2 linked regions of the Homo sapiens genome follow. The protein of the gene in region 1 purifies or fractionates together with the protein of each later gene. This does not show direct contact. Each region holds a gene or a part of one and is shown in the gene's direction. Other genes may lie near its edges. The genes, in order: USP24 and WWC1.

Region 1 (3,500 bases):
CTGCTCAACTCATGGTTTTAGGATTAAATTTGTTTGGTAACAGTATGGATAGTAAGGAGAAATAATGAGGGAAAGACATATTTTAAGGCTACTGTGCAATGATGTGGTGAGCACCAACCATTAAGAATCGAATAATGGGTAGAATATAAGGTGAATCAGATTTTTTAAAAAGAAGCATACTTTAGAAATTAATAATTAGTGCAGCTCCCTTGTTTAACAGATGCACCCTTTCGGGCCCCAAAGGGGAAGTGGCTTGTCCCCACAGAGTCAGTTAATAGAAGAGGTGGGGCTAGTACTCAGGCCCTTTTGCTTGAAGTCCTGCACTCTTTCGGGCTCTCTTTCAAAGGAAAAAGGAATGGGACACAGTAATGGGTTAAAGGGAAGGAAGAAGAGTAAAAAAACTGGGTGAAGATTGTCAGCTATTATATAGTTAATCCTTTTTATTTCTAAAAACTGAGTACCTTATTTTAAATTATATACATTTCTATTTGCTGCACAGGACATTTCAGTGTCATTGTCTTCTTTAAAAATGGGAAAAACAGAATAAAATCTAATTGATTAGAAAAGAAAGAAATGACTTAAGTTTTTTTATATTTGTAGTTTGGGGATAGCAATGGTTTTCTCTTAATGCCTTCCTGTCCCAGGGGCAGGGAGTAGAGTGTTGAACAGAACGTGGTGTTTACATTCTAGTGGGTCTTAGTCCAAGCCTCTCATTTTACAAGAAAAGACTGTCCAAGGTCATGTAGCTAGTTAGGTAAATCAGTTTGAGGCCCTGCTGTAATTAGGGTTTGGTTTAAAAATTAATATTTGAACAGTGAAAGCTGTTAACTTCCGGTTCAGTAGAAGCAAGGAGAATGCAGATAAAAAAGACCCAGATATCTAGCAAAACACACAACTGCATAGAAAGCCACCTTGTTAATATCCTCCAATTAAGTAAAGATAGTGTTTTGCAGAAGAGATGTGTTTGGTTCTCACTAGTATTGTTGGATGTAAATGTTCTTGGTCTCTGGGTCTGGAAGGGACTTTGAGAAGCTGTCCAGTTTTGATTTTGAATAGCATTACTTCAAAATCATTCCACGGCACATAAGAGTCTGTTCTATTATTAAAGAGAGTGAGCTCTCACAGCTGCTCTAAATAACTTATTCTGATTTTTAACCACCCCCCTGTCAGAATTCTTCACTCTTTACTGCATGGCTAATGTAAACTCTGGCCTGCCAAGTGCGTACCAATTGGTTCTGTTCTCTACACAACAGGAAGAGTTGGGCCTTTGTAATCTCTCCAGGGGATCAGTAGAAATCTGAACCAGGTATCCTGTGCATCTCACAGAACTTAACAATTATGAAATGTACCTTATCCATAAGGAATACCATCAAACATTAATACTATAATGAATACCTTATTCATTAAGTTTGTCTTTAGAAAATACTAAAATGGAAGTTTTTGGAAGGAGATTTCATATTAACTGAGGAAATACCTTTCTTAGCTGTCTAGTGCTGTTAATTAATATTCCCAGAAGTGACATTTAATACTGTGATCTGATAAACATTGTGAACTCCTTGTTTTGTTCCTGTTTTAATGTGGATGTTCTTTCTGGAGGTATTGTTTTGTCAGGAGTACTTTCAAGATTTCATTGCTTTTTTGTTTTTTTAAGTTTAGAGCCCCAAAGTTGGTCCTGCTGTTAATATATCTAAGTCACATAAAAATAAGAAGCATATTAATTTGTAGTTCCTTAACTTACCTCATTCCTATTTCTCTTGTTCCCCTTTGGTAGTAAGTGGTAATTATAAATGGATTAAAATTGTAATACTGTCAATGTGTATAATTAAGGTTTATGGTAAAATTCATGTTATTCTTTTCCTAAAATACAACAACCCTAGTATGAGTGTGGAGTAAATATCAAATGAGTAGCTTTTAGTTAACTATTAGTGATTTGGTACATGACCTGTGGTTTATGAATTACTGTGATTTGGTAAATAAAAAAAGGCCCTTTAAAGGCTTTAGAGTAAAAAAATGAAATAATTTCCCAAATCAGTTGAAAGTAGATGAAATAAAAATAGGGAATTAAAGATGAATCAGCATGGCCTAATTTTTAAATAAGAATTTCTTTCTGATCCAGTATATGTATATATATCTCCTTTGGGAATTAGGTCTGTGAGTTAATCTAATGGTTGGAGTCTCACCTTGTAATTACCTGCCCATTCACTTTTAGAATGAATGTAATTTGGCATGAAGAGAGTACCTTTCGTGTGTCTGTGAGTGTGGTTTTAGTGAAATCATAGTAGGTTGTGACAGCTTTATACAGCATAATAATATTGTTAGCTTAAATTTTGAAAACAATTTCAATGTTAGAAAAGCAAATGTTGTAATGTTTTAGCAATTTGAGGAAAAGGTTTCAACATTAATAGAAAAATATGTCCATATACTTAAGTATTTTTATACTTACTGCCTACAATATCATATACCATTTACTTGATCTGAGTGTGAAGGAGGGCGTTTTTTACTTTTAATAAGAAAATGTTAAAAAAGATTTAGTAGAATCTGAAATCTGGAGTTCAGTTTTCCTGGAAATTTTCCTTATATGGAACCACAGAGAGAAATAAGAAGTAAACACATAAGATGGAACCATTTCAGAACACCTTCGTACATGCATTAAAGCTCATGCACTCCACTCACTAAGCGCTCTAAGTGCACTAAAGCTCATGCATTTCTTTCATTTGTGTTTAAACTTAACAAAAAATACAGTTCAAACAAGTTTCAATATTAGGTTTCCTATCAAATTAGAATGGTTTTATGGCAATCTAAACACAAGGTGATGAGCTCTTAGAGACAAGCTCATTTGACAATAGTGAGAAGTGACAGTAGCAGCTTAGTGGTCAAGGAGGGAACAGGAAAGCTTTAAAAGCCGACTCAACCAAATCACACTAGCCGATTTGTGTAGGGTGATTTGAAACAGCTTTATTATGTGTTTCATGGCCCTGAGAGGATAACTGTGTTTTCAATGATGTCACAGTCAAGAAGAGGTTCCAGTGTGGTCTGCTTAAGAAGGGTCAGGAATGTTTAATGTATTTTAGAAAGGTTTTCCTTTTAAAAAGAAAAAAAAAGAAGAAGTTGGATGGATAAAGAAGTAGGCTTCAGACACCTGGAAAATTCAGATGTGAGGACATTTCAGTCATGATACTAGATTGCAGAGGTACGACTAAGAGAGTTGTGCTTCATTTTCAAAAGAGTAAATGTTTTTTTCCTCCCTTTTTTTTCTAGGGAGTTTTACTTCCTTTTTTAAGCTTGTATTTTTCATTTTCTTTATCATAGGAATTTTTATTGTTTAGTGTTATCACATTTTTCAGTCACAACTGACATAAAAATTTTCGTTAAGCTCATATTGATAGTAGGTGACATTATTGGGTTTTTTTTGTTTTGTTTTGTTTTTTTAAGATGGAGTTTTGCTCTTTCACCCAGGCTGGAGTGCAGTGGTGTGATCTTGGCTCACTGCAACGTCCGCC
Region 2 (4,024 bases), on another chromosome or scaffold:
AGAAGCTTATGTGTCTGTGGTCTACACTCAGCCAGCCTGTGAGGGTGGCACATGTGGGAAGAAGAAAGGGCAGGAAGGCGGACAAAACGGAAGGAAGACAAGATGGGATGCTTGGGTCAATTTCAGTCTTCTGCCCACACAGACAGTGCCAGGCTGAATAGCCTCCTCCATAGCTCACTGGTACTCATGCAGGGGCATCTGTGGGATAATGCCTAGAAGTGAAGGGTCTGGACCAAAGGACAAATGCATCTGGAATTTTGTTCGATTTGTCAAAGTTCCTTCCAGTGTATAGGGGCCTGATTCCCCAGATTCCTCACTTCTACAAACTCTCATCCACTGTTGTTTGCTTAGGGATTTCAGCAGCTGTTTAGTCCAACATTTTAGCCCCAGACATGGGCTGACCCAAGATTTCCTGCGGTTCTGTCTCCCTCTAGGAATATCCGCGTGGCTGTCCTTCCTTGCTCTGAAAGCACAACCTGCCTGTTCCGGACCCGGCCTCTGGACGCCTCAGACACTCTAGTGTTCAATGAGGTGTTCTGGGTATCCATGTCCTATCCAGCCCTTCACCAGAAGACCTTAAGAGTCGATGTCTGTACCACCGACAGGAGCCATCTGGAAGAGTGCCTGGTAAGGGCCGTGTCTGGCTGGCTGGCTGGCTGGCTGGCTGGCTGGCTGGCTGGCTGGCTGACCGGCCTTCTGTGTTTATGGGGATTGGTCTACCCTGAGCTTCAGGAAGAAGGTTCGAAGGAGACGCAGGTTGTGCTATCAATCAGGCTCATCTTGGATTCTAGGCAGCGAGGCTTCCACAGGTGAATGTTGTTCTCAGACTTAGGGTGGGAGGGAAGGAGCTCTTTCACAAGAGGAAGAGTAATGGACCTGAAAGTGCCTTTTAAAACTGCCAGAACCTGGAAAAAGCCACATACTGCAGCTTTACTATACAGCATGAGAGATTAGATAAGAAGCACAGACTATGGCTGTGTGGTGGCTTATATCTGTAATCCCAACCCTTTGGGAGGCCAAGGCCAGAGGATCACTCAAGTGCAGGAGTTCGAAAGCAGCCTGGGCAACACAGCAAGACCCCATCTCTACAAAAAATAAAATTAGCCAGGCATAGTGGTGCATGCTTGTAGTCCTAGCTACTCTGGAGGTTGAGATGGGAGGATCCCTTGAGCTGCAATGAGCTGATCATGCCGCAGCATTCTGGCCTGGGCAACAGCAGAACCCTGTGTCAAAAAAAAAAAAAAAAAAAGCACAGAGTAATGAAAGCAAACACATAGGCATTCACATCCCACCTTTACCACTTGCTGTATAGCTGGATGACCTTGGGCAAGGTACTTAACATCTCTGATCCTCATTTTTCTTATCCCTAAAATGCAAATGATAATGCCTCCATCATGCCCACTGGAAGAATCTTTATAAGGATTGAGATAGCACCCGTAAAACACCTATTCAAGTGTCTGATCCACAGTGGGTTCTCGTTTAGTGGGGCCATTGCCAGCCTCCTCCCTGAAACTGACCTTCTCCGGCTTCCATCTCTCACTGCATTGGCAGGAGTCAGGACTGGGGATGAAGTAGCCCAAGTACATTTTGTCCTAAGAGACAGGCAGACCCAAGTGCAGACAGATACTCAGCTTTCCCATCTGTAGAAGGGGGATTTATATAATAGCTAACTCGGGCTTGTGATGTACAAGTGAATTAGAAGAAGTAAAGGGCTTTGTTAACCCTGATGCCATTTAGTGTTAGAATATTTTAATGATAACTCAACTGTGGGCACAAAGGAGCCCAAGTGTGGGCATTATACCTAGAAGGTCGCTCCACTCATGCTCAGATCTGTACTGGGAGCTTGTTGTGTCCCCACCCCTGTGTCTGGGGCTGGGGATTCAATGGGGAACCAAACAGACAAGGTGCCAGCATTGATGGCTAAGATGTAAACAAACTGTGAGGAGGGCCGTGTTGGAAATGGATGGGTTGAAGTGATGGAGGAAAATGTGGGGTATGTGCAAAGGGGAAAAACAAGATGTATACACCTCTCCGAGCCTCTCCTGCCTCCATTTCTGGAAGCTGGAATGTAGAGCCTCTCACTGCCTTCTTGGAGGGCTCGCCCCTTTCTCCTGCTGTAAATCACAGACCTTTGCCCAGAGAAGGGAATCTCTTTGCTCTCCATCCTTGCCTTGATCTGCATGCGCTATAAAACCCTTCTCTATCATGGCATTGTGGGGCCACATCCTTGGATTGTGGCCTGGGGCTGTCACCAGCCTTGCCCTTCCAGCTGTGTCTCCTCACAGTCTTCAATTCTTAGTCTCAGTTCCCTTATCTGTAAAATCTGGCTCATACTGCCTTCCTGGAGGTGGTTCTCTGAAGACTAACTAAGGCGCTGAAGCAGCGCTTCAAACTGTGCCATGCACACAAGTTACCTGGAGCTCTGGCTAAATGCAGATTCTGATTCAGCAAGTCTGGAGCAGAACCTGAGATTCTGCATTTCTAATAAGCTCCCAGGTGAGGCCAATGCTGCTGGTTCCTGGATCACACTTTGGGTAGCAAGAATGTAGAGCAGCAAAGTGTTTGCAGTTTGTGCTCACTGGATATCGGTTCCCATCTCTCCTTCTTAGCTGGGTACAACACAGCATCACTGCTATTGATGTTGTTACTGACAATAATGCAGTAGTTAATACCAGTAGGTTGCAGTTTATATGGCAGGCACTGAGTTAAGCTCTTTACATGCATTATCTGTTTTTTTTATTTTAGACTGAGTCCTGCTCTCAGTCTCTGGAGTGCAGTGGCGTGATCTTGGCTCACTGAAACCTTCACCTCCTAGATTCAAGCAATTCTCCTGCCTTAGACTCCAGAGTAGCTGGGACTACAAGCGCCCACCACCACACCCGGCTAATTTTTGTATTTTTAGTAGAGGCGGGGTTTTGCCATGTTGGCCAGGCTGATCTTGAACTCCTGACCTCAAGTGATCCGCCTGTCTCCACCTCCCAAAGTTCTGGGATTACAGGTGTGAGCCACCACCCCAGCCCATTATCTCTATTGATCCTCACTCCAACCTTGCAAAATAGGTAGCGTATTCCAGTGGAGAAACTGAGGCACAAAGAGGTGAAAGACCTTTCCTGTCACAGTTAGGAAAGTGGCAGAAGCCGTATTTGAACCCCAGCAGGTCTCCCTCTGAAGTCCACACACGTCAGCGCCTCTGTGTTGTCTCTTTGCCAGCACAGGGCTCCCTGGAGCCCAGAGATGGGGGTGGTGACTTGAAGGGGTTGGCAAGCCTGGGCTCCTCCAGCGAAGCATTCCCTTGGCCCTGGGCATTCCTAAGCGAGAAGAGGCTCAATCCTATTTTCTTCTCCTAATTGGATGCCTTTTATTCCTCCTTCCTAATTGAAGTCTGGTCATTGCTGGTTGCCATGGCAGCAGCCAAAGCGCTCATCTCACTGTGGCTTGTCTCTGCCTGCGGCCAATGGGAAACCTCCTTTCCCATATACGGTGGGGACATGGAGTGTCAGGCTGTCGTATTCTGGTGGCTGGAGGAGGAGAGGAAGTGAGATGGGAGGAAAAAGGCCTGTCCTCTCCCACGCAGAGACTCCGGACAGCAGGATGTGTGGAATCCCCAGTCTGTTTTCAGCCAGGCAGCAACAGCATCTGTACTGAGTTGAGTCTATGTGTCTACCAGTGGGCTAAGAACTTCATGTGCAGTATCTCATTTAATCTTCGTGATGGCCCCAGGAAGATAAGGGATCAAGGCCCAGAAAGGCTAAGTAAGCTGCCAGGTCATCCAAGGAGAAAATGGCAAAGCCTGGATTTGAACAGAGACTCCAGCTTCCTTATGTGTAGCCATCTCACCATGCTACTTCTCAGGGGGTTACTATGAGTGTCTCTCATGTCCCCAGACCCAGATTACAGGTTTGGAGGAATACACAGCCCACCTTCCCAATATCGCAGGCAACAGTTCCACCAAATGCCCTGCATGGCATCACAGGGAGCCTAGTTGCCCACTGCTCTACTGCTGAGCTCAATGCCACCCAGCCCG

The links.
Region 2: the proteins of USP24 (region 1) and WWC1 purify together in Homo sapiens (co-immunoprecipitation; one large-scale study listed by IntAct). This does not show direct contact.

What each region holds. Positions count from the first base shown.
Region 1 is NC_000001.11:55,208,865-55,212,364, reverse strand, and holds part of USP24 (ubiquitin carboxyl-terminal hydrolase 24), read left to right. Parts: intron 1-3,500. UniProt on the Homo sapiens protein: Ubiquitin-specific protease that regulates cell survival in various contexts through modulating the protein stability of some of its substrates including DDB2, MCL1 or TP53.
Region 2 is NC_000005.10:168,430,818-168,434,841, forward strand, and holds part of WWC1 (protein KIBRA), read left to right. Parts: intron 1-434; coding exon 435-627; intron 628-4,024. UniProt on the Homo sapiens protein: Regulator of the Hippo signaling pathway, also known as the Salvador-Warts-Hippo (SWH) pathway.